3 separate regions of the Homo sapiens genome follow, and all the other regions are linked to region 1. Evidence: fine-mapped expression QTL. A gene starts in region 1. Each other region holds a variant in brackets. All regions are shown on one strand. Distances are from middle to middle.

What was found. PIP is the estimated chance that this variant, and not a neighbour inherited with it, causes the effect.
Region 2: its variant is fine-mapped to the expression of PLEKHA7 in sigmoid colon (GTEx, PIP above 0.99).
Region 3: its variant is fine-mapped to the expression of PLEKHA7 in monocytes (TOPMed, PIP 0.93).

Annotation. Positions count from the first base shown.
Region 1 is chr11:17,008,237-17,019,101 of GRCh38, reverse strand. It overlaps PLEKHA7 (pleckstrin homology domain containing A7), which reads left to right and starts at 4,688. Exons shown (of 27, transcript NM_001329630.2): 1 at 4,688-4,786; 2 at 4,901-4,977; 3 at 5,056-5,113. The coding sequence starts at 4,701. RefSeq lists a silencer at 5,986-6,280 and an enhancer at 6,165-6,926.
Region 2 is chr11:16,963,356-16,974,220 of GRCh38, reverse strand. All of the region lies in intron 3 of PLEKHA7 (pleckstrin homology domain containing A7), which reads left to right. Among named protein-coding and RNA genes, the nearest start is that of SNORD147, 43 kb to the right of the region's middle. The variant A/G (reference allele first, on the strand shown) is at 5,478.
Region 3 is chr11:16,790,884-16,800,483 of GRCh38, reverse strand. PLEKHA7 (pleckstrin homology domain containing A7) reads left to right here. Exons shown (of 27, transcript NM_001329630.2): 18 at 5,466-5,574; 19 at 5,770-5,996; 20 at 9,285-9,473; 21 at 9,569-9,600. Among named protein-coding and RNA genes, the nearest start is that of C11orf58, 57 kb to the right of the region's middle. RefSeq lists enhancers at 8,938-9,438, 9,439-9,600. The variant CTCTAA/A (reference allele first, on the strand shown) is at 5,162.

The DNA.
Region 1 (10,865 bases):
ATTTGAGTGTCAATTTGTGTATAACTATGATTGCAGTCAAGATAAAGAATTATGGTCAGTGCAGTGGCTCATGCCTGTAATCCTAGTACTTTGGCAGGCCAAGGAGGGTGGATCACTTGAGGCCAGGAGTTCAAGACCAGCCTGGCCAACATGGTGAAACCCTGGCTCTACTAAAAATACAAAAAAATTAGCCAGGCGTGGTGGTGTGTGCCTGTAATCCCAGCTACTTGGGGGGGCTGAGGCATGAGAATAGCTTAAACCTGGTGGTGGAGTTTGCAGTGAGCCGAGATTGTACCACAGCACTTTAGTCTGGGTGACAGAAGGAGGCTCTGTCTCAAAAACAACAACAACGACAACAACAAAAACAAAACACAAAACCCCAGAAAAATATAGAATTATTTCATCACTACAAAGATCTCCCTCATGCTATTCCCTTGTAGTTACATCCTTACATCCTCCCACTCCCCACCACCATCCCTAACTCCTGGCAACCACTAATAATCAGTTCGCCATCTCTACATTTAAAAAAAATATATTTTGAGAACATTATAGACCTTTTCAGATTGGCTTTTTTTTTTTCTCAACATAATGTCTTGAGATCCATCCAAGTTGTATGTATCAATTCCTTTTCATTACTGAGTTTTATTCCATGGTATAGATATATCACAGTTGTTTAACCATTTACCTATCATAGGACATTTGCTTATTTCCAGTTTTTCCCTATTACAAGTAAAGTTGCTGTGAATAATTATGTACAAGTTTTTATGTGGAAAAATGTTTCATTTTTCTGGGATAAATGCCTAGGAGTGTGAATACTGGGTTATATGGTAAGTAAGTGTTTAGTTTTTGGCTGGTCTCAGTGGCTTGCACCTGTAATCCCAGCACTTTGGGAGGCTGAGGTGGGTGAATCATTTGAGGTCAGGAATTCAAGACCAGCCTGGCCAACATGGTGAAACCCTGACTCTGCTAAAAACACAAAAATTAGCTGGGCTTGGTGGCATATGCCTGTGATTCCAGCTACTCGGGAGGCTGAGGCAGGAGAATTGCTTGAACCCAGGAGACAGAGGTTGCAGTGAGCTGAGATTGTGCTGCTGCACTCCAGCCTGGGTGACAGAGTGAGACTCTGGCTCAAAAAAAAAAAAGTTTCCTTTTTAAAGAAACTGCCAAACTATTCTTCAGAGTGGCTGTACCATTTTACATCCCACTAGCAATGTATGAGACATAAAGTTTCTCTGCATACTCTTTTGTCACTATTTTTTATTTTAGTTTCTAACATATAATTTTGAAAATCAGTGATAGGCATTGAGTTTTATTGATTACATATTTTGGCATTTATTGAGATAATTTCAGTGTGTCTCTTATTGGACCTATTAATGAATTGTATTATTCTATGTATCTATATGTATATGTTTTAAATGATAAAAAGATCAAACAGTATGAAAGGGGAAACAAGGTAAAGTAAATCTCGTACCATTCCTATTAGAGTTTCCCTCCTCAGAGGCAATCACTTTACCTGATTCTTGACAGTGTAGGGACTATATCTGTATGTTAACAGTAGCATATCACATGCACAGTACTGTAGCCTGCCTTTTCACTTTATTTATTTATTTATTTAGAGATGATGTCTTGCTCTGTCACCCAGAATAGAGTGTAGTGGCCCAATCATAGCTCATTGAAGCCTCAACTTCCAGGGCTCAAGTGATCCTCCCACCTCAGCCTCCCAAGTAGCTGTAACTATAGGTATGCGCCCCATGCCTGGCTAATGTATCTTTTGTAGAGATGGAGTTTTGCCATGTTGCCCAGGCTGGTCTTGAATTCCTGGACTCAAGCCATCCTCATGTTTCAGCCTCCCAAAGTACTGGGATTATAGGTACAAGCCACTGCATCTGGCCCATTTAATATCTTACAGACCATTCTATATCAGTACGTAGGGATCTATTCTCATTCTTTTTTACAGCTTGCATAGCATTCTGTTTTTGTTGTTGTTGTTGTTGAGGAATGTGCCAGTTTAATCAACCAGGTCTTTTTTGATAGACATTAAGGTTATTTCCAGTTCTTTGTAATTACTGACAATGCTGCAGTGAATACTCTAGTACACTGGAATTTGTGCCCCATGTAAGCACTAATGTAGGATAAATTCCTGACATGAAATTGCTAGGTCAAGACATTGAGGTTGGAATAGCTGTGCCAAATTGCCTTCGAAGAGGCTCAAACATTTTAAAGTCCCATCAACAATGAACAAGAATGTCTTTCTCTACAATATCTTTTCTTTCTTTCTTTTATGAGACAGAGTTTCACTCTGTCACCCAGGCTGGAGTGCAGTGGCGTGATCTCTGCTCACTGAAACCTCCACCTCTAGGGTTCAAGTGATTCTCCTGCCTCAGCCTCCCAAGTAGCTGGGATTACAGGCATGCACCACCATGCCCAGTTAATTTTTGTGTTTTTAGTAGAGACAAGGTTTCACCATGTTGGCCAGGCTGGTCTCGAATTGCTGATCTCAAGCGATCCACCCGCCTCAGCCTCCCAAAGTGCTGGGATTACAGGCGTGAGCCACCACGCCTGGCCAATATCTTTTCTAATTTATCTTTTCCAATCTGACATCTAAAAAAATAGTATTTCACCGTAAGTTGCAGTTCTTCTATTATGAAGTGGCTCAGTATCTTTTCATTTGCTTAAAAGTTATCTGTATTACTTTTCTATTAACTGTGGGTTCATACCCTTTGCCCATTTAATGTATTATTTAAAATCAATGTTTAGCTAGCAAAACACCGCTTTCCTATTTTCATTTGCTCAACAACCTCCTCAGAGGCAGGAGGTTCCTTCAGACAGGTGTCCCCCGTCCTCTGCAACCAGTTACCTCTTCTAACTCATAAATGCCTCCTTCCCCAACACCACTGTCTGTTCCCAAGGAAGGGCCCCTTTATGGTCTCATCAACATCTCACAGCCCTCCCAAAATTATGTGCATGCTCTCCCATCCCTCCCCTCTGGAGTGCTCTTTTCCCAGTCAAACCTAACCAGTCCTTCAGGGTCCAGCCTAATTCCACCTGTTTGGGCACCTTTCTGAATAACTAGTGCTCACATTGCATACAGTCTCACTTTCAGGCGCGCCTCCTCCCATCAATCAGAGCCTATGTCCCGAGAAGGCTGGGCCTGACAACAGCTGGAGCCCAGCTGCTGCTCTGTCTTTGCTCAGTGTGTGTGTGTGTGTGTGTGTGTGTGTGTGGCCGGGAGTCTGAGTGTGGAGTATGTTTCATTCACTCATCCTGCAGTTTTTTTTTTTAGACTGAGTCTCGCTGTTGCACAGGTTGCAGGGCAGCGGCGCGATCTCGGCTCACTGCAACCTCTGCCTCCCTGGTTCAAGCGATTTTCCCGCCTCAGCCTCCTGAGTAGCTGGGATTACAGGCGCCCGCCACCACGCCCGGCTAGCTTTTGTATTTTTTTGGTAGAGACGGGGTTTCACCATGTTGGCCAGGCTGGAATAGAACTCCTGACCTCAAGTGATTCACCCGCCTCGGCCTCCAAGAGTGCTGGGATTACAGGCCTGAGCCACCGTGCCCCACCCCATCCTACAGTTATTGAATGCGTAATGCATACATGAGTCAGGTGCTGTTCCAGGCATTGGAGACCAGGCAGTGTATGAGGTAGATCAAAGCCCCTTCTCTCATCCAGCTGACATGTTGGAACTAATATACAACAAACAAGACAAACACAAATATCAATTAAATGTAAACAAGTAATGAAATAGCGAGGGAAGGAGGGGAAGGATTTTCTTTGCAGAGGGCTCAGGGAGGGCTCCCCGAGGAGATAAGATAGGAGTAAAGACCCGAATATGAGAGGGTGCCGCCACTGCAAAGAGCTTTGCAGGGCCCCCTAGAGGCCCCGCCTGGCCACCGCTCTTCCAGAGATGGACGTGCTGCCGAGCCCTCAAAACCCCTTTTTTCTGTTACTTGACAGAAACTGAAGGCAAGAGCTTGCGATCCCTGCAACCTCAGTGGTGTGTGGCGGTAACCCTGCTCCCTCCTGTTTCACATCCCAGCTGAAAACTTGGGAAAATGAAATCGCGCTCGGCCTGCCGTTGATAGAGCACCTACTACATGCCATGGTCCGGTTAAGCACTTTATGCGATTGTTACTTCATTTAATCTACACAACAATCCCGTGTGGACTCGATTAACCTTACAGGGGAAGAGAAGGAGGCTGGGAATATGGCAGGAACCTGAGTGTTAACTTGGTTCACACACAAGCGGAGTTCCCGGGTCGGGAAGTTCTGTGGTGCGGGTCGGCTGGGGTTTACTGAGCGTTCGGGCGCTCGCCGTTTTCGGAGTTGGTCGGGTCCAACCGCGCGCCCCGAAGCTGCCCAGGCGCGCCCGCCAGCGGCCCCCGCCAGCGGCCCCCCGCGCCGCCCGGGTCTCCCGGCCTCGGGGGCAAAGGGGAGCGCCGGTGCCAGCAGGCTGGGGGCGGGGAAGGCTCGGGGACAAAGGCCGCGGGCACTGCGCTGGGTTGGCCGGAGCGGCTGCGAACTCCGGGCGCCAGGACCCGGCCGGGCGGTCGCTCCCTCAGGAGCCCGCGCCTGGATGGAGCGCCTCGCGGCGCCGCCGGGCCACGCGCAGGCCGAGCCCCCGCCACCGCCCCCGCCTCCGCCCCTGCCCGCGCCCCCGCCCCCTCCCCCCCACCCCGCGGCGGCTCCGCGCTCGGCGAACATGGCGGCGGCGACGGTCGGGCGGGACACTTTACCTGAGCATTGGTCCTACGGGGTGTGCCGGGATGGCCGCGTCTTCTTCATCAAGTGCGGCGCGAGGACCCGGGGACGCGGGGACGCGGGTGGGGGCGCGGGGGCGGGGGCCGGGCGGGCACCCGGCGGGCTGTGGCGGCGCTAACAGGTGCACCTCTCTGCCCGCAGTGACCAGCTCCGCTGCACGACCTGGCTGCATCCGCGCACCGGGGAGCCCGTCAACTCGGGCCACATGATCCGCTCAGGTGGGCGCCGGGCCGGCGGGTGGGGGGCGCGCGCAGCGGCGGCCCAAGTTTGACCCGACTTTTCTGGCGTTTCCGCAGACCTGCCCCGCGGCTGGGAGGAGGGCTTCACGGAGGAGGGCGCCAGCTACTTCATCGAGTGAGTGAGTGGGGCCGCCGCGCTCGCACCTGTGCCGCGGGGGGGGGGTCCCTCCCCGTTCCCGCCGGGCGCCCCGCCCTTCCTCTGCTCCCGCCGGCCCGGGCTCGTTGGCGCGCGCTGCGCCGCGGCCACACTCAACGTTTTGTGTGCCCAAGTTGTTTGGCGGCCTCCGAGAGGAAGGCGGTGGGGGCCGCACCTACGCTGGGGACCTGGGCCGGGGGGGAAGAGGCCGCAGACTCTGCGCCCTGGACCTTGCAATCCGGCTGGATTCGGGTGCTGGTGTGCGGGCTGGGCACGCCTCCCCTCTAGGGTCTGGGGCTGCGCCCCGCCGGGAGAGGCGAGTGCCGGGACCTGGATGGGCTCGGGTGGGAGGAGTAGAACGAGAAGTTCTGTCCTGGTGTGGGCCTGCGGGGTTGGAGTGGGGAGAGGGAGAGACTAGGGGAATCTCGCTTAGGAGGACGCCCCCTCTCCCGCCGCAGGCTCTGGGATGGTCTTGGAGAGTCGGAACCTCGCCCCCGGCCTCCATCCACTGCGCGGGCCTGCGGGGAGGGAGGGGGTGGGGAAGGGAACTGGTCAACCAATGACTTTCCTCGAGCGCTCCGCGTCTCTTCGGCCGGAGCTGAACCGGGGGATTGCTGGTGCTTCCGTTAGTCCACGGGCGACTTTTCCGCAAAAGCCCCGGAGTGTTGGCGCACCAGCCAGGTTACCCTGGGTCTGTAGGATCAGTCCATGTCAGATTGGGGCGCAGTAAGTGAAGGCGCGGGTCAGGCTCCTATGCCAGTACAGGCTTTGCTTTCCCACTCCGGCGGGAGTCTGTGTTGCAGCGTGTTTCCCTCTGCCTGCTGAGCTCCGGGAGGCCAGACACTGCCTTTGACCCCTTGCCCCAGTGCCGGACAGCAAGTAGGCACTCGGTAAATGTTTGTTCACTGAATGAATCAGCTCGCCAAAGGTCTGGACGGTGGTCTGACTAGTACTGACTGGGTGTACCTCGGCGACTGTGAGTCAGAACTACTACTGTTAGGAATAAAGCAGCCTATTTCAAGAAAACCCCGGAACCTCCTTTTCTGGTTTGGGTTCTTGCATAATAGTTGAAAATACTGATGGGTGAGATTTACAGACCTAAGGACTAGGGCCTTGCTGCGGTTCTATTGCCCTGCCTCATATGTGTGTATGTGAAGTTGGGGAGTTGGCTGGGGCCATCAGAGTCTTGCTGTCAGTGGGCCTCTCTGGCTCATAACTGCATCAGTTGATGTTATTACAATTTTCCTGTGTGCCACACGTTCACACGTTGTTCTAGGCATTGGGAACAAAAAACAGAAAAGTTCTAGGTGCTCATGGAGCTTGCAATCTAATAGGAGAGGGAAGGGAGTAGAAAATAAGTAAAAAACACAAATAATAATATCAGATCGTGGTTACTACTGTGCAGAAAGTTAAAATAAGGTGATGTGACATGGAGTGACTGGGTGGCTTGGTTGTACTGGGAGATCGGGATGGTGTTTCTGAATAGGCAACATTTAAAGTAAAATTTGAATGACAAGAAGGAGACATCATGTGATGATGAGTTGGCAAAGCATTTCGGGAAGAGCGAACAGCCAGGGCAAGGGCTTAAGGCAGAAAAGAGCTTGGAGTTTAAGGAGCAGGAAGGCTGGAATGTGGTGCACAAGGGAGAAAGTGGCATGAGGAGAGGTCACAGGTAGGAGAAAGGTAAATGCCGCAAAGCTTTGTGAGCCGGGGTGAGGAATTTTCATACTTTATTCTAAGCCCAGTGAAACGTCATTGGAGGGTTTTAAGCAGGGAAATGGCATGATTTGGTGTGTGTTTTTAGAACGATCACTGTGAGGAGATTGGATTGTAGGTGGCCACTGCAGGGGGAGGCAGGAGAGCAGCTGAGGCTGTTGCCCTCTTCCAGGCAGGAGTTAGAAGTGGCTTGCCTGAGGGTGGTAGCACAGTAGACAGGGAGTAGTGGTCACATTCAGGCTGTGTTTAGGAAATAGGCTCTTCACACCTTCATGATGGACTGAATAGTCTGTGGGAGAAAGAGAAGAGGCAAAGATGACTCCTCAGGGCTTGGGCACCTGAGTGGATAGCATTCATATCGTTGAGATGGGAAGAGCCGGTTTGGGGTGGAGGAGAATCATGAGATCTTGTTTTGCCATCTTACATTTGAGATATGAGTATGTCAGATAGTGTGATCTGAAGCTTGGTGGGGAGAGAGGACAGAAGAGACCCATTGGGTATAATAGATGTTATTCAAGGCCATGGGATTAGATGAAATCCCCTAGGAAGAGAGTACAGACAGAAGAGAGATGTTCTGAGGCTTTGGATGGTCAAAGCAGTGTTTAGAGGGGTGAGAGGTGAAGCCAGCAAGGAGACTGAGAAGGACTGAGAAGGTAGGAGAAACCCCAGGAGAATGCATGGTCACAGAAGCCTTAAAGGACAAAATCTGACTGGAGTAGGTGGAAGATAAAACACGGGGTGAAGACAGGGAGTCAGTTAGGCAAATCTTCCAGGTAGTTTTGTTGCAAAGTGGAGTTGAGACATTAGCCGGTAATTGGAGAGGATGTGGGTTTGAGGGAGGGTTCTTTTTTTTGGTGGGAGATTGTACAGCATGTTTGTTTTGATGGGAATGATCCCACTGAGAGGAAGAAGTCGATGCTGCAGTAAAGAGACGGGGCAGTTGCTGGAGCAGTGTTTCTAAGAAGGTGAGAGGGATGGGATCCATGGCCTGCATCTCACTAGCGTCACCCAGGGGCAGGGCCCATCATTCATTTGGCGGGAGGAAGGGCTGCAAGTGTCCCAAAGTACCAGGTGCAGCCTTGGGCTGGGTGTGTGAGGCCGCGTGTGGGACTCTGGAGGCTGGAGCACAGCCTTCCACACCTTTGCTGACTCTTCCATGGTAACTTGTCTGTGAGGTCCCTAATGATTTTCCTACAGTGAGCTCCTGTGCCCCCAGGGCCTTGGCTGACTCCTCCCAGGCCTAGAAAAAGCAATGTGTGACAGTGTTCCCTACCCTCAAAGGCAGGGCCCTGTGGCAGGTGATTGTACTTCTGACGTCCTTCTGTGACAATTTTTTGAGAGACTTAAGGGTTTTGGGAGTAATTGTTCTCTCCCTCATCCCCCGCCCCCCACATGAAAAATGTTTTACTGTTGTCTGATTTCTTAGCTTTGCCGTGAGCATTTCTGAATGTTTGATTTTTGTGTTGAGGGCAGGAGCCTCCTCTAATCTGGCTCATAAAGTGAGAGCGACAAAGCATTGACATGGCTGATTTTATTTTTCCTAATGGCTCCTTGCACAGGAAAGTTGTGTGAGGTTTTACAGGATGTATTCAGTTGCTCCTCATATTTAGCAGATTAAAACATTTTAATTTTTGAAAAAATTTTAAGAAACAGAATCTTCCTCTGTCTCCTAGTCTGGAGTGCAGTGGTGCAATCATAGCTCACTGCAGCCTTGAACTCCTGGGGCCAAGTGATCCTCTCACTTCAGCCTCCCAAGTAGCTGGAACTACAAATGCAGGCCACCATGCCTGGCCAGCAAATGTTTTAATACTCTCCAGAGTCCATTTCTTTTCTTTCTTTTCTTTTTCTTTCTTTTTTTTTTTAAAGACAGCTTTGCTCTGTCGCCCAGGCTGGAGTGCAGTGGCACGATCTCAGCTCACTGCAACCTCTGCCTCTTGGGTTCAAGTGATTCTCATGCCTCGGCCACCCCCTAAGTAGCTGGGACTACAGGTGTGCACAACCATGACTGGCTAATTTTTGCATTTTTAGTAGAGACAGGGTTTCACCATGTTGGCCAGGCTGGTCTCAAACTCCTGACCTGAAGTGATCCGCCTGCCTCAGCCTCCCAAAGTGCTCGGATTACAGGCATGAGCCACTGTGCCTGGCCTCGGAGTCCATTTCTTGAAGCAGAAAAGCTTGAGGTTAGGCAGGTGAATTTTTGTTTTGATTTCTGCACTTTTTGTTCAATTTTGCATTAATGAGGGACAAAATGTATAAGAAATCTACTGTTGGTTCTCCCAGTTCTAGACTAAGTGATGTTGATAACCCCTTTAAAAAGATTTTTTGGCTGGGTATAGTGGCTCATGCCTGCAATTCCACACTTTGGGAGGCGGAGGCGAGGGGATCACTTGAGGCCAGGAGTTCAAGATCAGCCTGGGCAACACGGAGAGGCCTCATCTGTACAAAAAATGAAAAAATTAATGGTGGTATGCTCCTGTAATCCTAGCAACTTGAGAGGCTTAAGTGTGAGGATTGCTTGAGCCCAGGAGTCTGAGTTTACCATGAGCTATGATTGTGATACTGTACTCCAGCCTGGATGACAGAGTGAGACCCTGTCTGTAAATAAATAAATAAATAAATAAATAAAACGAAGACTTTTTGTACTCTAGCACTTCTCTACTATGAATCCCTTAGCTGGGTAGCAAGGTATAATAGTAATTGTGATAATAGTGTCATTAACAGAAGTAGCAATAATAGTAGTAATAATTATATAACAGCCTAATCTTTTTGGGTCTTTGAAAAATGCTAGGAACTGTTCTGTAACTGTCATTGATTTAATTCTCACAATAGTTTGATGAGGTAGGAACTACTACTAGTTTCGTTTTACAGACATAGAATCTTGCCGTAATCCTGGACATTCCTATAGCAGATGGTTTTTTTTCTTGTGTCTTTTCTTATTTGATCCTTATAGCAGCCCCTGGAGGCAGGAGGGGAAGAATCATCCCCATTCTTCAGATGATGAAACTCAGGTCCATGAAGGTTCAATGATTTTGCTGAAGTGTTAGAGCTGGGACTGGAACATAGGTCTTTGGTCCCTCATGTGATAGCCACAGTAGTAGTGGTAGCTCCTACCCCAGGCCATGCATCTTGAAGGAGATGAATGCCCATATGCCATTGCTCTGAGTTAGGCTTCCCCAAGGCTTATGGGGCCAGACTCCATCTTTGCTTTTTCTGGGGATTGAGGTACTTTGGAAGGGCAGTACCCCCTGGTCTCCTATGTTGATTAGGGGTGGTACATGTCTCTGATTAGTAAGAAATTGAAGACATTGATTATTAGTAAATACAATTTGGCAGACACAGCTTTTTCAAACATGGGACCTATGAGGGAGAAGTTTCTAGAAGAGGCCATGGGAGTTAGAGTATTACACTGGGCTGCTCTTCAGGGGTTTCATGGAACCTTGTGAATTCCGTTCCCCCTACAGCAGGCATTAAATAGGTCATGAGGCAATGAGGAGATGGCAGAGAAGAGGGGCTCAGCCACCTTGCCTGTGCCAAGGCTGTTCCTTGAAGGCAGGCATCTTATTCCCCACTTCTGTGACTTAGGCACCCAGCCCAGGGCTGGGAGCTGAGTAGGCACTTGGCATCTCTTGAGGAATCAGTGTTTTAAAGAGACCCAATGAGTTTTCTAGGTATTCCAGGTCTTGGAAAACTCCTTACTGGGAAGGAGATTGGGGTGGAGGAGAATAAGCAAGGTGAGAGAAGCTCAACAGCCAGGAACAGGCCTGTCAAGGCTGGTGCCTAGACCCAGGCTTCTTGGATACAGTCGCTTGCTGTTGAGAACAATGCTCAAAGCAGGAAGCTGGCTGGTGGAGGCTCAAACGGCCTCCTCTGCGTCTTCATTTCATATCCTTATTGCTCTGCATCTGGGACTGGGATACCTGTTGGCTACTGGACTAGGCTGTCTTCCTTCCCTGGCTGCTGGGCCCTTGGCATCATCTGTGACTTGGCACAAGGGTGCTGGCAGGAACCAGCTGAT
Region 2 (10,865 bases), 45 kb after region 1:
ATCCTGGCTCGCTGCAGCCTCGACCTCCCTGGGCTCAGGTAATCCTCCCACCTGAGAATCTTACCCACGTAGCTGGGATGATAGGCGTGCACCACCACATCTGGTTTGAACTATTTTAAAATTTTTAAGTGAGTCTTAAATTTTCTTTCAGAGTGAAAAGTTTAAAACAAATAAAAATGAAAAATGTGCTTGTTGAATAACATTGACACTGTAAAAGGTATGTGATGATAAAGAAGAACCCTTTGGTAGAAGGTGGGAGAGGGGTCATGCAGGCTCAAGACAATGGCAGGAATGTCCTGGGGGTGTCCAAGACTGTCCAGGACTGGGCTGGTCCACAGGGAGGAAGTGGGTGATGTGGCAGGAGTGGATAGTCACCCGACTGAACAGGGCCTTTCATGTTTGATACTCACAGTGGATGGGGAGGAACACTCCAGAGGGAGACTCAGGTTGGAGGGCAGAGTGGTGACAGGGGAGGGCATGGACTTTGGAGGCAGACAGGGTGGGCTCAAGGCATAGGGCCCATCATAGGAAGCAGCTGCTCAGTCTAAGTTCCTGTCCCTCACTGATCCCCAGGCCTCACCTGCAATTGAATGAGAATCTCTGAGGTTGGGTCCCTGGCAGTATTTTCCTTTAAGCCCCCAAGTGATTTTAATGTGCAGCGAGGGTTGAGAACCATGTGGTTAGACTCTTTCACATCATGATTCAGCACAGTGCATGGCTTTTAAAAGGGGCACCAAGAGAAACTTCTCTTTTCACCTCTGCTGCCATCAGGGGAGAGTTTGAGGCAGTTGCATGGTGGTGTGAAGGGGGTCGATCTGGGAGCCCTGTGTGGTGGTCCCTGCCAAGTCTGATGTCTTTGTGTTGGTGGCCCTTTACTTGGGATTCTGGCCCCCACATCACCTCTTTACCTTGTGTGGGGCATGATTTGAACACTGCAGGTGATGGCTTTCTAGTGGCCTGTGTTCTTGCCCATCTGGAGGGAAGAAGGGGCTGGAAGGCCCTGTGAGAGAGCTGATCTGGGGCTTGGCAAGTGCCTGGTGGGATCAGAGGGAGACCATAAAGTACATAAAAGTACACATCCAGGCACTTTTTGGGTCATATGGTGCTTTCCAACATGGGCCCACCCAGTCTTCACAATAAGCCTGTAAGGCAGATGGGCCAGAAATGGAGAAAAAGGGAAACAGAGGGTCTTTGATTCAAGGAAGGAGCAAGCGAGAGTCAAGCCTCTCTCTTTTGGCTATTAATCCACTTTCTTTCTATAAAACCATCTAGGCCAATGGATTTTCTGGAGGCCTTGGGGCTTATGCCTCTTTAGGAAACACTTTGTTTTATTATGTCAAGGTGTATGGTTACTGGCCGAGGTTTCTAGTTTTTTAGGCATTTATGAAAATCCAGCTGCTGAGTCACAGCACGTGTGTAATTGTATTGGTAAGTTAATGGCTATTTATGTTTGGAGGTGTTTGGAAAACAAGAAGGAGGCAAGATTTTAAAATATGTTTTGACCAGGTGTAGTGGCTCACACCTGTAATCCCAGCACTTTGGGAGGCCAAGGCAGGAGGATTGTTTGAGCTCAGGAGTTTGAGACCAACCTAGGTGACACAGGAAGACCTTATCTCTACTAAAAACTGAAAAAAAAGAAAAAAATAGCCAGGCATGGTGGTGCGCACCAGCAGTCCCAGCTACTTGAGAAGCCGAGGCAGGAAGATCACTTGAGCCTGGAGATGGAGGCTGCAGTGAGCTGTGATTACACCACTGCACTCCAGCCTGGGCAACAGAGAGACTGGTTCAAAAATAAAAATAGCTGGGCGGAGTGACTCACGCCTGTAATCCCAGCACTTTGGGAGGCTGAGGCAGGAGAATTGCTTCAGCCCAGGAGTTTAAGACCAGCCTGGGCAACATGACAAAACCCCGTCTGTACAAAAAATACAAAAATTAGCTGAGTGTGGTGGTGTGCGCTTGTAGTCCCAGCTACTCAGGAGGCTGAGGTGGAGGATCAGTTGAGCCTGGGAGGTTGAAGCTGCAGTGAGTTAGGATCATGCCACTGCACTCCAGCGAGGGAGACAGAGTGAGACCCCATCTCAAAAACTTAAAATAAATTTGCTGGGCATGGTGGCTCATGCCTATAATCCTGACACTTTGGGAGGCCAAAGTGGGTGGATCACTTGAGGCCTGGAGTCCAAGACCAGCCTGCCAACATGACAAAACCCCATCTCTACTAAAAATATAAAAATTAGCCAGATGTGGTGGCACATGCCTGTAATCATAGCTACTTGGGAGGCTGAGGCATGAGAATCACCTGAACCCAGGAGGCAGAGGTTGCAGTAAGCTGAGATGGTGCCACTGCACTCCAGCCTAGAGGACAGAGCGAGGCCCTGTCTCAATAAAAAAGAAAAAAAAACCAGGAAAATGATAAGAGTCCTTAATGACATCTGCGAAAATATCCCTTCACTTAAAAATAAAAAAAGATATTTAAAAAAACTATAAAAGAAAAAAATAGAATAAAAATGTTTTTCTCTGTATTTGTATCCAGATAATAATTCAAATATGTATCTCCTGCCCTGACCTTTCTTGGGTTCCAGAGAAACATTTAACAAAGCCCCAAATACTCAACTGAACTTGGATATGTCCCTGGCACCTGTGTGGTAATAGTAATAGTGGTTATGGTAGTAATAACAGCTTCCATTATTGAGCGTATCCTATACAGTTCAGCACTTGGAACTCACCTAACCTGGAAAGGTTGCTGAAGAGATTAAATATCTGTATTTCAGAAATCAAACCAAACAAAAAACTTTTGCCACTTGTTGGCTAAATTAGTCATGACACCTCTGTACAGTGGATTATTATGCATCTATTAAAAATGGTGCTGTGAAATATTAACTAAGGAAATGGAAACTGTTCCCTGTACATTAGTAGATAAAAGAAAATTACAGAACAGGCTGGCATTTGGAGGTTCTCAGTGAGTGTTTAAATCCACTTACATACAAAGCTATATTGTCACTCTCCTCCTTTTATTGGTGAAGAAATTGACTTGTGTAAAGGTCATGCAGAATTTTAGATCTGGGTCTTTTGAATTAAGACTGAAGTGCTTTCTTTGTGATACTCGTCTGTTTCTGTCTATTAAAAACACAGTAAGATATTCTCTAATCAAGGACTCATTGCTATGCTCAGATCAGAAAAGTCCGGGAGACCTGTTTGACACCCACATTATTTTGTTTGCATAGCTCTTTACAGTTGATAAAGCACTTTAAAGGATATATAACTTTTTCTGATTTTAAAAGATGACCTATTTATTGTATAATTAGGAAGGCAGAGAAAAGCCCCAAGAAGGAAAAAATATTTATAATCCTGTAGGTTTAACTACTATTAACATTTTTTTCTTCCTGTCTTTTCTCATTGCAAATACAAATTTTATAAAATTGGGATCATGTTGTACATATAGTTTTGATTCTTGCTTCCTTAACTAATCTGTTATAGACAATTCCTCGTTAATTGTTCTTCTACAATGTGATTTCATGCACAGTATCTAGTTTTTGTTTTTGTTTTTGTTTTTTTTTGAGATGGAGTCTCGATTTGTTGCCCAGGCTAGAGTGCAGTGGTGCGATTACGGCTCACTGCAGCCTCGACCTCCTGGGCTCAAGCGATCTTCCTGCCTCAACCTCCGTAGTATCTGGGACTACAGGCACACACCACCACATCTGGCTATTTTTTTTATTTTTTATTTTTTACAGAGACAAGGTCTCACTTTGTTGCACAGGCTGGTCTTAAACTCCTGGACTGAAGCAATTCTCCCTGCCTCAGCCTTCCAAAGTGCTGGGATTACAGGAGTGAGCCACTGTGCCCAGCCTACATTTTCTCTTTTGATCCTTAAAATAACACCTTGAAGCTGGTAGGGGAGGATTATTATCCCCATTATAAAGGTTGGAAGCTGAGGCTTCTAGAAGTTGCCATTTGTTCAAGATAAGAAACAACTTTGGAGTGAGAAAGGGAATTGCTTTAATCCAGTGAGTCTGAGGGAGTGGAGTAGGAGGTAGGTTCAGATTCATCTGTTTTGTTGTATTATTCAAAGTTCTGAGAAAACCCCCTTTCTGTAACCTCTACCAATGTCCTGGTCTGTCCTCTGTCCCCACATAGAAAAAGTTTTCACCTTTTAAGTGTTTGAAGAGGCTCCCATGTGGCCCTATGTGTTTTCCTTTCCAGGTTAAATCATCCTTGTTCCCTCATGAAACTTGGCTTTTAGTTTACTCGTTGTCTTTGACATCACTCTGGGCATATTCCCCTTTAGCTGTAATCCTCTTAATAGTGTATGTACTAGTAAGCTCTTCAGGTTGAAAGTGACAGAAACCCAACTCAAACTAGCTTCAAGAGAAAAGGAAGGATATTGGCACCAGTATCTGGGAACTCCCAGTGTAATCCTGACCTGGCCTTGGCACTGTTGGACTCTGGTGCTCAAAGGGCATTTTGGGGGCCCTGCCTTCTCCATCTTTCAAGTCTGCTAACTCTTTTGTCAAGGAAGAGAAATGCTCACTCTCCCAGGAGCTATACATCTCTTCTTAGGGGAGATTATGATCCCCTGCTTGGAACATGGGCCTGTCCTAGGGGTAGAGCGTGGTGGCTGAACAGTTGCAGCATGACGATATGGGAGGTGTGACTTCTGCCAGTGAAGGGATGCATATGAGCAATGCATGTCCATCATATTGCAATATGTAGAATTGGTGACTGGCCAGCTCAGAATAGCATGGGATCATCATCTGTCTTTTCCTCAATATCATACTTGAATCAATTCAACCTAAAATCAAAATAGGTTCCCTATTAAGATGTAATCATATTACATCAAGCACTGCTGCTCAGCTTCTCTCTCTCCTCTTAAACTGCTGGTCTCAAATTTAGGTCTTTAAGCTTATCTCTGTTAGATTCCATATGGCTGTATTAGGTCCAGAGAATCAGCTTGTTAAGATCTTTTAGCTCTAATTCTGTCATCTGGCTTCCTGCTTCTCCCTCACAGCTCAAGCACTCTGCAGTCAGGTGATATGATGCAACTGACATTTGGGAGTGGCGGGGATGGGAGATGGGAAAGTGAGACAGCACCAGGCAGTCAGTTGCATCAAAAGAGCCAGAATCTTCTCTCACCTCCTCCCACACACCCTAAAACCCCTTCAGTTTCCTTTGCATGGCCCATAAGCTCGGCCTTCTGGGTTCATGATATATTAAAGGTCACCAGGAAGGACATCACACATTCTGCTTTTTTACTGAGGCCCTAAATGGACTTAAGTAGGAAGGACCTAGGTTAGACATTAAGAACTTCTTGGCATAGGTGGGTATGGGGGGCATATTAGAGAAAGCAGTAGTAGATCCGTTTCTGGAGGCTGTCAGGTACTAGCGTGTTCCTGAGAAGTCTGCAGTGTATAGAGTGTTAAGTGGGGGATGTGAAATCCCTATGAGGCTTGTTGAGTTTGCAGGCCTATCATGCCAGCCATTGC[A/G]TGCAAGCGCTGTTGGTGGTGGGGGAGTCATGGGTGTACTGGATGGCTTTGGCCTCCATTGCTCTATTGAAGACTCCAAACTGTGTTGTTCCGCTGCAAAAATTGTTTTTTTCCATTGTAAGCAAGAAACACAAAGCAGCCCTTCAAGGAGGGTGTGCAGGCATGCAATTCTGGCAGTATGTTGCATTAATCTGATGTGGCATGGGGTGAACCACCCCAGATGGCCTGGCAGAAACAGTTGGACAACAGCATCCAGAGGACCCCTGGAGGACAGAGGGCAGTGCAGAGAGCCTTGCCCTGGAAGGACCTGAGCCCACAGACATGGCCAGGAGGAGGCCTGATCTCAGCGCTGGCTTGCCCATGAGTTGAGCAGGAGTAGAGCTGGAGAGCAGCCTTTTCCATGTGGCCCACTGTGGAGCCTCGTGTGTGCTGTGCATGAGTCTCTGTGCCCAGAGCTGAGTCTGGAACAGTTTCCCTTGTGGTTGTTTGGGAGGAGAGGGAGGCAGATCTCTACTGATGAGTGTCAGCAGGTGTGTGAGGCCTCCTCACTTCAAGGTACGTTTGCCAAACCCCTCAGGATCTTGGCAACTGTCCTTTGACACCTAGATGACTTCCTGTGGGTAAAGCCCATTAGCAGTCTATTCCCTCTGCCTGCTCTAGATCTCAGTTGGGGTTTTGACTTGGGCTAAGTGGGGTTCTATCTATTCTTCTCCCTTCTTCTTTCCCTCCGTCTCTCCAGGCCTCCTCCTCACTTTCCTATATGCCCTGAGCCCCTCTTTCCATGCCAAGGGAGAATGGGAGGTAGTCAGACAGGAAATGACTTCCTTATCTTTAGATGGGTACCTCTTTCTGGGCAATTAGTCTAAAGAAAGGTCTGAAGTTGGCTGGTGAGGGGTGGGGTGAGGCAGCAAGCTGGCAAGTGTGTGTGTGTCAAATGGGGGTGCCTGAATCACTCTGGTGCCTGGAGAGCATAAAACAGGTGCTTGTGTGGTGCTCATTCTGGGCTCCTGGCCTGTCCGTCAGAGAAAGCTGGTTTGGAGTGCACCTGAGTGTTGCAGAAGGGGAGCTGATTGGAGGGAGGCAAAGCAGGGGTGATGGAGTAGGGGCTGTTCTCTCCTGGACTTAGGGTGCTGTGAGGCCCAGGACTCTCTGACAGGAGGTGACTTGTGCCTACACTGTGCCTTGTGAGGGGTGGGCCCCAAGAATGGAGGGCCTCATGGCATTAAGCAGAGCTGTTTCCTCCCCTCACCTTCCCCTGTGTGGCAGAGACACAGCATGACCAGCATCGCCTAGAGCTCCCCAGCCAAAGGTCAATTTGAATCACCTAGATTTTTGCTTATTTTGCTATAAGAGAACAGAAGCCAACTTGGGGAAATCCTGTGTTGACTGAGTGGTAGGGAGTGTGGATTAGCTGGGGTCTGCCCTAATGGAATGGTTTCTGCGCTATCCTAGAGGTTGCTGGAGAAATTATATTTTAATGGGAATGTTCTTTTCTAAACTTTAACTAGCAAAGCCACAGAAGCGTTTGCCAGTTAATAATGTACTTGATGAGTTGTTGAGCTGAAATTTAACAGCCAGTTTAAAAAATAAGGTAGAGAATTTAAAAACAAAGGACATTGAGAGCATGTGTGTCTTAGAATGCTTTCTGCATTTCTGTTGGAATCAGTGATTTTGTGCTGACTGGGAGAGTTTCAAGGGCCCCGTATCTTCGGTGGCCTTTCCAGGAGGCCCTAAGGCTTGGCTCCTTGTTCCTGAAAAGTAATTTAATGTGTAGCCCATTTGTAGATGAACCATTTCGCCACTTCATGAAGCCACAAGGCTGGGGCAGCTCTTCTTGCTGTGAGATAGCCCAGTGAAGGTGGTGGCAGTAGAAACGGTGGCCTGAATTCAGGCAGGCTCCAGGTGGACGACAGCAATAAAACCTTCATGGCCAGAGCAGGGGTGGGGCTGACTGAAGGAATAAAGCAGGGAGTGGAGTTTCTGCTCTGATATCTGAGATGACAAAGTCCTGCAGAGTTTGCTCTGGAAAAGAGAAAAGGTTAAAAAAAAAAAAATCCGAATGGAAAATTTAAGGAAACGGAACCCAAGGCTCCACTTGGATTCTGAGTGGTGTGTGTTACTGCAGATTGGTACCTTTTGTTAGAGGCCCTGGATCTCAGTTACGCCCCTTCTGCTTAAGCTCCCAGTTTTACTTGTGCACCCTGGCTAGTGACTCCAGATGCCCCTGAGCCTTGCTTGCTCTTCCCAGTACCCTAGTGGGCTTCTGGTTCACAGTGTGGCCCTTGGAAATGGGCTCCACAGGGTGGACTTTCTGCCTGACTCATATCTTCATCCCTCAAGGTGTGTCACACTAGTGGTTGCCTGGTAGATGTTTGTGAGATACCTGGGGTGTTTCTTATAACTGTGAGCAGCCTAGACACACACACACACACACACACACACACACACACACATACATGCACAACCATGCCTCCAGTCCCATTTCTGCATCTGTCCTCACTCTCTCCACCTCTATCCAGAGTTTTCCTTCTCCTGTGTCTTGTGCATGTGTTTGTTTGTTTTAGATGGAGTCTTGCTCTGTCGCCCAGGCTGGAGTGCAATGGTGCGATCTCAGCTCACTGCAACCCCCACCTCCTGAGTTCAAGTGATTCTCCTGCCTCAGCCTCCCGAGTAACTGGGACTATAGGCACGCGCCACCACTCCTGGGTAATTTTTGTATTTTTGGTAGAGATGGGATTTTACCATGTTGGCCAGGCTGGTCTCGAACTCCTGACCTCAGGTGATCCACCTGCCTTGGCCTCCCAAAGTGCTGGGATTACAGGTGTGAGCCACCACCCCTGGCCCTTTCTACCTGTTTTATTAAAAGAGCTGGAATGTGCTGGGCAGGCAGTGCACTGAGTGCTTTTATCTGGACTCTCTCATTTACTCCTTACAGCCACTCACTGACATAGATACTTAGTATTTTGTTGCCATTTCATAGATGGGAAGATCGAGGCCAAAAGAAATGACCTAATTTGCCTCAGAAGTTAATGGGGTTGCCACTACTCACCCACAGGTATCTCTGATTCCAAAGCTGAGCTCTTCACTTCTCGGATACAGACCTCCCTTTTCTGGGCTTTGAGCTGGAGTAGGGTATGTGTCTCAGGGAGAAGAAAATACACTGCCCATTCTCCCCTCCCCTTGCATCTCTGTCTACAGATGCCTGTCTCTCACTTCCCCCAGGAGTAGGAGAACCCAAAGGTGAGTTGGCAATAGAGAAGTGTCAGGCACTAAGGGGATGAGGGTGGTGGGTTTTGTGAGTTATTTCCCCCAGATATCTTTCTCATTGCCATTGACACAATACATTAAAATTCAGAGGAAAAAACTACAACAAAGGAAGAATTGGTCTAAGATAGGGGTCTTCAAACCTTTTTTTTTCTTTTTGAGACAGTCTCGTGCTGTCATCCAGGCTAGAGCGCAGTGGTGTGATCTTGGCTCACTGTAACCTCTGCCTCCCAGGTTCAAGTGATTCTTGTGTCTCAGCTTCCCAAGTAGCTGGGACTATAGGCACGCGCTACCACACCTGACTTATGTTTTTGGGTTTTTTTTTGTATATTTTGTAGAGACGGGGTTTCGCCATGTTGGCCAGGCTGGTCTCAAACTCCTGACCTCAAGTGATTTGCCTGCCTCGGCCACCCAAAGTGCTGGGATTACAGGCATGAGCCACTGTATCTGGCCCAAACCTTTTTTTTTTTTTTTTAAATCATGTATATCCCATTAATAAATGAGCATTTGCCCCAACACATGTATGCTCATTTATAAATTATATACATACCTGCTGTGCTAATGAAAACACACACAATTGTAAAAGGATGGCATAAAAATAAACCTGAATAGGTGTTCTACTGTTTTCTTCTAGAACTCCGTGGGTCATCTTGAGCACCTCAGGATTGAGTGCTGTGCACTTTGGAGACCCCTGGTGTCCCCCAGTATCTAAGGAATGCTCTATTACTGCAGCGCAGTGCCCTGTAAGAGAGCGCACAGCTGGCTGGACCTCCAATTTCAGGTGCTCTGATTTTCAGAAGCAGGAAAGGCCCTGCCCAGCCAGCCCTCATGCTTTTTGTCTGGAGTTTTACCAAACTGAAGGAATCCCAGAGTGAAACACTCCTAGTTGCTTCTCTGGTTGCAGTCCTTTGCTGTTACCCCAAGGCCCCTCAGGAAGTTCCAAGAGTGTGCAGACATCCTGGGGTATGAGGGAAAGGCTGTTTCCTAGGCTTGGGTACAGCTCAAGGATTGGTGAGGATGTGGAGAAATTGGAACTCTTGTGTGTTGTGCATTGCTGGTGGGAAAGTAAAATAGTGCAGCTGCCCTGCTTTGGTGGTTCCTCAAAAATCTAAATAGCATTACCCTGTGATCCAGCCATTTCATGTCTAGGTATATACCCAAAGGAATTGAAAGCAGGAGCTCAAACAGATATTTGTACACTTAGGTGCATTGCAGCATTATTCATGGTAGCCAACAGGTGAAAAGAACTCAAGTTTCCATCAACAGATGAATGGATCAACAAAATGTGATATATACATATAATTGAATATTACTGAGCCCTGAAGAGGAAGGAAATTTTGACACATGCCACAACACAGAGGAACTTCAAAGACATCATGCTGAGTAAAATAAGCCAATTACCAAAGGACAAATTCTATGATTCCACTTTTATGAGATACCTAGAATAGCCAAATACATAGAAACAGAAAGTAGATTAGAGGTTTCTAGGGCCTGAGGGAAGGGAGAAATCGGGGGTTGTTGATAACTAAGAGTGCTTCTGTTTGAGGTAGTAACAAAGTTTTAGGAACATAGTGGCGTTGGTTGCACAACATTGCGAATATAATAAAGTAAGAATAAGACCTTAAACATAAAAGCAATGAGAGGTGGCTGGGGGCAGGGTTGGAGAAACAGGTAGTTAATTCTTTTGTCCAAATGCAGTGCACCTACTGATCAGATGCCAGGGTGTCCCTGTCCTTTTGGATACCTGCTGCCAGATTAGGGCTACTCGAATGGGACACTTGTGGCCACACCCTGGTCATTCTGACTGGCTGTACAAATAGCTCTCCTGGCTCCCCAGGGGACATGTTCATCAAGATTTAGGCCACAAAGTAGGGCCGTTTGTTCCCCCTCTTGCCCCTCTCCCCAGTCAGCTGACGACAGCTCCAGTGTTGCAGCCCAGCACCCCAGGATGGATGACACACCTCCCTGGTGCTCCATTGTCAGGGCTCTCTGATTTGCAGAAACAGGTAATAGTTTCTGTCTATGGTTTGGAATCATGAAGTAGGGCAAGACAAGTTTCTTTGGAGTTAAATTTAGGGCTTAGAATCCAGGGGGTGGCTGAGTAAAGCTGTATTTAACTCCTAC
Region 3 (9,600 bases), 220 kb after region 1:
CATTTCTGGAGGCCAGGCTGGGTGATGCCCATCTCTGTGACCCCTATACCACTCAGGAAAGTTGGCCTTAGAGCCCTGCCACTTCACCCTTAAAAAATCAGGCCACCCTATTGATAGCTGCCTCTGTCCCCCAGAAGTGAGACAGTGAAAGGCCCTGTGTGGTTTTTCTTCTTCCAAATTGGGTTCCAAATTGCCCAGTGTTCCCCCACTGTGGTGCTTAACCAGGTTTCCACCCCACCCTCACAATTTTTTAAGTGGAAAATAACCTGTTTTTTTCTCCCCTGACTTAAGATCTATATCTTCTCCTTTCAGGGCCCTGACATAATAAGTGTGTTTGAATTCAGCAAGCATTAATTGAGGCTTCTTGTGTATGAGGCACCTTGCTGGGCCACTTTTGGTGCTGGGCTTGCTAACTGATAAGATAGTTCTAACCAAGGCTCTTTGTTTAAGTGATTTAATGAGTATGTTGACTCTCCAGACATTAGCCTCACCCCAGAAAGTTGAAGGAAATTCTGGAGTAGGGTGTAGGTGTGTGGGCCCTGAGGCTTTTCCAAGGGCCCTGCTGTCCCTCTATTCATGCAGAGATGGTTCCCAGAGAGCCCTGCCTAGGACCACGTGGAGGAGACCCTCGCCTGTGGCTCAGGGCTGGTCTACAAGACTCTCCCCAGCACTTGTCTATCTCCTGCTGCTGTTGGGGTCGTTTTCCTCCCATAATTTCTCTTCATCCACACTGGCTAACATTTCACTACTCTTTTTTGTAGCCGCAGCATTTACCGTAATGACTTGAAAATACTAGGTGAATGTTGTTGACAAAGTCCTTCAATTATTTCTGGTTATGAGTTTATAAAACTGCCCAGGTTATACCTATTTTCTTGGACTTCAGTGATCTGAATTTTTTTAGCAGTAATTTTTTTTTGCTTTATTTTTAGCAGTAATTTTTTTAAGCTTTTCATTCTTTGTTCCTGTAATTACACAAATGGTACATGAATACGTGTCTTTGAAAAGACCAAAACAGTAAGAAGCAAAAACAAAAAATGATATAAAAGTTCCTCTTCCCCCTCTCCCTTTCTGCCCCTCCCATCACCCTCCCTATGTGTCATCAGTGCTATCTATTGGTGGCATTGCCTTCTAGACCATTTTCTATGCATTTTCAAAAATATGCACATGCATAGAATCATATGATTTATTCAGGAATGGGAGCAGGTAAAAGGCTTACTTGAAGAGGATCACACTTACACATTATTTGGCAACTCACTTTTTTTGTCATAACCTGATATCGTGGAAATCTTTCCAGGACAGTTAATCCAAAATTTATGCTGCCCAATAAAATATAAATTAATTAAAAGTAACTGAAATTCAAAATGTATTCCTCATTTACACCAGACTCATTCAAGTGCTCCATACCCACATGCAGCTATCGGCTACTGTCTTGGACAGCAGGGATTATAGGTTTCTATCATCTCAGAAAGGTGTATTGGGCAGCGCCAGTCTAAGGAAATTAAACTTGTTTTTCTTGACTGTTACATACTATTTCATAGTCTGGGTGTTTTCTACTTTATTTAGCCATTCCTCTTCTGATAGCATTTAATTATTTTCAGCGTTTTGCTTTTATAAATGGTGGTGTGATAAGGATTTGTGTAACTGCCTTTTCACATTGTTTACAAGTATCTGTGTAAGATAGGCTCCTAGGAGTGGACTTGCTGGGGTTGGAATGAGTATACATCTTAAAAGTTGATGGATATGCCAAACCACCTTCTAAAGGGCTGCACCTGTTTATCTTCCTACCCACAGCAAATGAAAGTACTGGACCTATTTGCTCACATCCTTGTCAGCACTTGTAATTGATCTTTTTAGTTTTACTAGTCTACTAAATGGCATCTTGCTTTAATTTGCTTTTATTTAGTTATTAGCAGGTTAAATATCTATTCGTATGATTATTGGCCATTTGTGTCTTTACTGTGCCTTATGTCATGGTGATTTAACATATAGCAGGCCTAGAATCCTTTTTTTTTTCCCCCTTCCCTCCCAAAAGCAAATAGATACACTGTGACAGGTCTTTGTCACAGACGCCCTGGAGAACTCAGCCCCATGACTTACTCTCAGATAGGCCAGCCTGGAGCCTGCATCTTGATTTCCACCTTGCCTGTGGCACTGCTCACACTTTCCCTAAGTGGCACAGTAACCTGGGAAGCTAACAAAGCCCTGCTTTGAGCAGGCACTGTGCTAGCTTCTTTGGTGTCATTCTAGGCCAGGCAGGCTGTTAGAGCCCTAGAAAAATCATCAGCACTGCAGATGCACTTGCAGCCCCATGTGCAGATTCTCAGTAACAGGGCTTAGAAATTCGCCTCCCTGTAGTCAGGTTTGGCTGCAGGAAAATAGCCTTTTCAGTCAAGGCTAAAACAGTGAGTTCAAGGCTTTGCTGAAAGCAGCACATAGGAGCCTTTCTACCCAGTGTGGTGGGAGGAGGCAGGAATGAAACTCCACCCCCTCATTTCCCCCAAAATTCCCCTCCCCTCATTATGAAGGCCCAAAATTCCATCACCGTTGGAGAAGGATAGGGACTCTCCAGCCTTTTTTATTCTCTGCTCTCTGTTCTTTTCTCACATGTGGGGGTGACAGAAAGGCATCAGGGGGGCAAGAAAGTGGCTGACAGGGGAGCTTTGCCAGGGAGCTATGGAGGAGGAAGAGGACTGCGTTTAATCCCTTTCTTTACCTGTTCTCAACACTCAGCTTGGGGACTTCAGCCCTAGAGGTCATCCTCTTACATACACATGCCCTGGGCTCGGTAATACACCTGTCTGTTTTAGGATGCTCATGCTTTGGCATGGAGCTGAGAATCAAACCCATTATTAGCTTGCCAGACCTGAGGATGTGCTTTATGTTGGAGGGGTTGAGAGAGAGAGTGAGAACTGTGAGCCCCACCTTGGGACAGGAGGCTTTGGACTTCTGTTGTCCTGGCTGTTGGAAAGTATTTGCTCAGGGAATTTTTACATGACTGGTCCTTTATTCACGTAGCATGTATGCACTGAGAACCTGCTAAGTGCCAGGCCCTGTAGGGATGGATCAATGAGCAGTATTGGGCAGGTCCATGAGGCTCATGCAGTGCAAGAACTCTTCCAGTTGAGGGGTAGCTAGGTGCCTCGAGAGGAGATGGGGTGGGAAGCCTGCCTTTATTTTAGTCCATGGGGTGGGACCAAGGCTATCTTTCCCCCATTTTAACTTAAAAGTCAAGAGAATACTACATTTGATGTTTAAACAGCCCCGTCAAGAGATGGCCGTAGTCCCTTAACCCCATCAGACCCCTCTGCACCTCTTTTAGATCCTCTTCCCATTCGATTTTGGTTGTCAGAATGCACATGATCATATAGCCTAGGTCCTTCCCCATTGTATGTAGATATGTATTTTTTTGGAGTTTATAATTTTTTTTTAATTGATATATAAAAATTGTACTCTTATTGTGCTAAAAAAATTAACAGCTTTATCATATATTTCACATGTCATAAAATTAACCCTTTCGGCTGGTCATGGTGGCTCACGCCTATAATCCCAGCACTTTGGGAGGCCAAAGCAGGAGGATCACTTGGAGCCGGGAGTTCAAGACCATCCTGGGCAACATAACAAGACCCCTGTCTCTACAAAAACTGAAAAAGAAAAAGAAAAACTAGCCAGGCATGGTGGCATGCTCCGGTACTCCTAGCTACTTGGGAGGCCAAGGCGAGAGGATCACTTGAGCCCAGGAGTTTGAGGTTACGGTGACCTTGATCATACCACTGCACTTCAACCTGGGCAACAAAGTGACCCTATCTCAAATAAATAAGTAAATAAGTAAATTCACCCTTCTAAAGTATACGTTTCAGTGGTTTTTAGTATACTCACAGCATGATACAGCCGTCACCGCAATCAATTTTATAACACTTCATCATCCCCCAGTAGAAATCCTGTATCCATTAACAGTCACTCTCATTCCCCCAGCGTCCCCTCTGCCCTTGCCAAACACTAATCTACTTTCTGTTTCTACTGATTTGACTAGTCTGGACATTTCTTATAAATGGAATTATGTAATGTGTGGCTTTTTGTGACTGGCTTCTTTCCCTCACATGTTTTCAAGGATCATCCTTGTTGTAGCATGCATCAGCACTTCATTCCTTTTTATTGCCAACTAATATTCCATTCACTACTGTATTTTTAACTAAACCTCAAATATCGGGTTCAGCTGACTTTTTAAAAATGTTTTTTATATCCTAGAGATGGTGTAAACTCTAGTCCTTGCCTTCCCTTCTGTCATGATTACATAGGACAGTGCCTTTCAAAAAAACTGTGGTAAAGGCCAGGTGCAGTGGCTCACGCCTGTAATCCCAGTACTTTGGGAGGCCGAGGCAGGCAGATCATCTGAGGTCAGGAGTTCAAGACCAGCCTGGCCAATGTGGTGAAACCGCGTCTCTACTGAAAATACAAGAATTAGCCAGATGTGGTGGTGGGCGCCTGTAATTCAGCTACCTGGTTGGGAGGCTGAGGCAGGAGAAATGCTTGAACCTGGGAGGTGGAGGTTGCAGTGAGCCGAGATGGCGCCATTGTACTCTAGCCTGGGCAACAGGAGTGAAACTCCATCTCAAAAAAAAAAAAAAAAAAAAAGGAAAAAACTGTGGTAAAATACGTAGAACATAAATTTACCACCTTTATTATTATTATTTTGTTGAGACAGGGTCTCACTCTTTTGCCCAGGCTGGAGTGCAGTGATATGATCTCGGCTCACTGCAACCTCTGCCTCCCAGGTTCAAGCGATTCTCATGCCTCAGCCTCCCAAGTAGCTGGGATTACAGGCGCACACCACCATGCCTGGCTAATTTTTGTATTTATAGTAGAGATGGGGTTTCACATGTTGGCCAGGCTGGTCTCAAACTCTTGGCCTCAAGTGTTTACCTCCTTGGCCTCCCAAAGTGCGGGGATAACAGACAAGAGCCATTGCACCCGACTCATCTTGATTATTTTTAAGTATACAGTTCAGTGGTGTTAAGTACATTCACATTTTTGTGCGCCCAATCTCCAGAACTTTCTATCCTGTATAACTGAAACATTATACACATTAAATAGTTCTGCATTCTTCCCTCTCCCCCGCCCCCAGCAACCACTGTTGTACTTCCTGTCTCTACGAAATTGACTA[CTCTAA/A]GTATGTCATACAGTATTTTAGCGGAATGGCACAGTGTTTACGGCAGTCTGTTTTTAAATTAGGTAGGCAAGCTGGACTGCTGAAAGCTACTCTGAAATTTCTCCCTGGATCGTGGGCATTTTCCTTGTCTATGCTTACCTAGAAAGCTATGAAGCAGGCTTGGTTCTAGCACTAGTGGGGTTTCCAGAGGGGATGCTGCCCCTCAGGGCGGGGGGCTCTGTCTGAAATGGTAGGATAAGTCCTAAGAAGAAACTTGTAAGGAGCTAAGAAGGCAAACCCACCACTTCGTCTTCCTCAGGAGAAATCGCAGATACAGAAAGATCTATGGAGAATTGAAGATGTCACTGCAGGCCTGAGTGCAAATAAAGAGAACTTCAGAATTCTAGTGGAGTCAGTAAAAAATCCGGGTGAGATGTTCATCTTCCTGGATGTGGGGGATCTGATTGGGGGCAGGGTGGTGGGAGGGTGGAAGGCTGGGAACCAGGTGGGTGGGATGGCCCTTGGGGAGGTTGAGTCTTCGAGGTGCTAAATTACTCCACTCATCCTCCAAGGAAGGGGGTCTTTGTTCCATCCCGTGCTTTGTTTCCTTCTATGCCCCTTAGAGAGAAAAACGGTGCCTTTGTTTCCTCACCCGCCTGTGCCTTCACTCTCAACTTCTGAGAGCAAGCCGCCCCCACAGCCCAGTCCTCCCACCAGCCCTGTGCGGACCCCTCTGGAGGTTCGACTCTTCCCCCAGCTGCAAACCTACGTGCCGTACCGACCTCACCCACCCCAGCTGAGGAAAGTGACATCCCCCCTTCAGTCACCAACTAAGGCGAAGCCCAAAGTTGTAAGTAGTGATAACTAGGAGCTGAATGCCATTGTTTCCTCTCTGTCCTCAGATTACCTTCTCCTGGGAGAGAAACTCCTGGGAAAACTTGGGGAAATGGACCCAGCCAGCGTCCTAAAGGAGTCCTTAGTCACAAGCAGTTAAAAAGTAGTATTTCCCTGCTATTGTGCCTTAGACTGTCAGAACTGGAAGAGCCCTGGAAGATGATCTAACCCAACTCTCCCATTTTGCAGTTGGGAAAACTGAGGCCCACCAAGAAGAAGTGAGCGTGCTGAGTAGGGTGGAGTTTGTGATCTGCAGAGAGGTGTGTGGCTGTGGACGAAGCTGTCCCCATGCAAACCTTTGTGCAAATCCGCAGGGGGCTCTCCTGCAGTTACACAGCCTGTGGGCAGTGAGTTCAGTCCAGTGGAAAAGTGTCCTTCCCTTCACCCGCCGCTGAGCACTGGGCTGGGTTGTGAGGATGCTTTGATCTTTAAAATAACCTCGCAGAGTATACACAGCAAGAGCAGTATCCCCATTCCACAGAGAAGAAAACTAAGAGCCTAAATTGTTGACATTTGCTCAATGTCTCCATGCTAACTAGTGAATCCAATCACATCTCCTGGCCCTTCTCTTTTATTCTGTGCCATCTGCCATCTAATTGGGCTTTCAGTCCCAGATCCGGTCTGTGGCCTCTGTGGCTGACTGGGCCAGCACCTTGGTTTGCCTGGCATAGAAAGGGGCCAAGCTCTTGGCAGAGTCTGGGAATGCAGGAGACTTTAAAGAAATAGGAGATGTGGTCAGGTCCCAAGAGAGCTCACGCCTCCAGGGCCAGGCCAGCCTTGGCTGGAGAACACAATGAGGCTGGTCCCAGTGCAGGGAAGCCATAGAAGAGTGGACCTCGGAATGGGGCCCTCCAGATTTTTGCCAACAAAGGCTTGGAGGAGACTTACCTGGGCATTGTGTGTGCCTGGACCTCTGATGAGGTCAGTGCACAGTGCTGGGTAAAACACATGAGTTCTGCTGCCCTGGTCTTCACCATCTACCTGCTTCCAGCCATAGTCCAGGGCCCAGAGCTGGACCCAGGATATGGCCCAGCACCCAGCCAGAGAGTCACTGTGGATTTCAGCATCTTGAGATCTCCTTCCCAATCCCAGATCCAAGAGGTGGACTGGAGCTCTAGCCCTAAAACAGGAGAGGGAAAATTCCAAAACAAACAGCAGGAATGTCTGGGGCAGATGGCTGCCAACATAGGGCAGAATGCTGCCAGCTGGGACAGGGCGTAGGGGAAAAAGGCACTGGCATAGGAGCTGGGACACCCAGATTCCGGGACTGATTCTCTCACTGTGTCCTCAGGCAAGTCCGTCCCTTCCCTGAGCCTCCTCATTTTCCCTTTTGTAGATGGTCACAGAGGCTCCTCCTCAGCTTGGTCATCTGTGGCTCTCAGGCAGGGCTTTCTCAGCTTGGGTGAGCATCAGGATCACCAGGAGAGGTCCTCTCTCCTAGGAATATATGTGTGTTTGCCAGTTTTACCATTTGTTTTATTACTTACTTGTTTTTAACACTTATAAGATGGGCGTGGTGCTGCTTGCCTGTCGTCCCAGCTACTGGGAAGGCTAAGGCAGGAGGATCATTTGAGCCCAGGAGTTTGAGGCTGCAGTGACCTGTGATTACACAACTGCACTCCAGCCTGGGCAATACAGCAAGACCCTGTCTCAAAACAAAATAAAACCCATTTATATTTGTGAAACAATAATATCCATCCTGAAAATGACATAAAACAGGATTATATAATTTAACAAATAACAATAAAGAGACCACCTGTTTTATACCAACAGCTAGACTAAGAAATAGAACACTGCCAGCAACCAGAAGCCTGTGGGTTCTTTCCCAGGCCAAGCTGCTTCCTGTCTGCCAGAAGTAACCACAATCTTGACTTTTTGGATAATAATCCCCTTGCCTTTTTTTTTTTTTTTAATTTTAGTACCTGTGTTGACTCCTAAACACTGTGATTATGCTGGTATATAATTCTATATACTATTTTGTGTCTTGCATCTTTTCTTCAACATTATGTTTGTGAGATTTATATACATTGTTGCATGTGGCTATAGTTCTTTTATTTTTATTTGACTTATTTTCTTGAGTTTAATGTCTTTTTAAAAATAAATTAGATAATATTCTCAAAAGATACAAAAGCAAAAGATATAAAAAAGTACATAATAACATGTCTCCTTCCCACCCTCTGCCTCCAGACATTCCATTCAATCAAAGGCAATCAATGTTTTATGTTTATCTTTCTGGGGAGCTTTTTAGAAATTGGTGATTCGGATATCTTGTCAGGATTGGAAACTGTGGATCCTCAGAGAACCAGTGCGTATCTTAGGCAGATGGCTTAACTTTCACACATCAGTGAAGATTGTTGATAAACCTTTGCTTTGGAGTGCTCTTTCCTGAACTTTCCAAGAGCTTGGAGTGCCCTTTCCTGAACTCTGCAAAATTCTTAAAAACAAAACCAAATTAGACCGAGAAAGAGGGAATTTAGGAGGTGGAAGGCATGATGGTCGTTAGTCCTGCGAGTGGGTGTTCATGGCAACCAGGGGCCGGTCTGTTGATATGTAGAGGAACCACAGCCCTCACAGAACACTGTGGACAGGGAGTTTCAAGGAAAATGTTGCATTCATCACATTCTAGGGAATGAACTGCATGGTAGGCAGTGAGTCACTCATCCTGACCGCCTGTTCTGTCTGAGTCAGGAAGGAGGAAATATTTTGTAACCATGCACATTTCTGATAGAAAGGCCAGGAGGATGTAGACTCTGTCCTTGTTCAGGTCCCCACCTTGCTGAAGGCGCCAGAGCTCGTGTAGGGCCAATGAGCCGGCTCAGGCTGAGCACTGCTGAGTGGGTAGATGTTACTCTCCAGGTAGGTGGTGCTGTGATAAGCATGGAAGTCAGGGCAGGGTTAGCAGCCTGCCTGCGATGTGCACTCCAGATGAGCGGAGGGAGCAGTTCAGCACAGCACCGAGGGCATGGACCCAGGAGACCTGAGTCCTGGGTTTCAGGACACAGTTATACAGGTAACACTTGGAGGAATAGAAACTGTATACCTCTGAGGGGATAGAGGAGCAGAGCATGTCCCTTCTTCACTGCTCCGCCAGGGGAAGTGTGAGTGCTCCTTGGCTGAGGCAGTCATGTTCTGTGGCTCTGATGTGGCCTGTTCCTACCCTTTAAACCTCCACTGTGGCAGTACCTAGCAGTCCTCCCTCCAGCTCCGTCTCGCTGACCACTGGTCTGGTTCTCTTTCTCAGCAGGAAGATGAAGCACCTCCCAGGCCCCCACTCCCCGAACTCTACAGCCCAGAGGACCAGCCCCCGGCTGTGCCGCCTCTGCCAAGAGAGGCCACCATCATCCGGCACACATCTGTGCGGGGCCTCAAGCGGCAGTCAGACGAGAGGAAGCGAGACCGGGAGCTGGGGCAGTGTGTGAATGGGGATTCCAGGGTGAGCGGGGGACCCTGGGGCTGCCACTCTACATGTGGGGAGAGGTAAAGGGGTGTGACACTGGCAGGTCACATCACCTGGGACTCTGCCCACAGGTGGAGCTGCGGTCGTATGTCAGTGAGCCTGA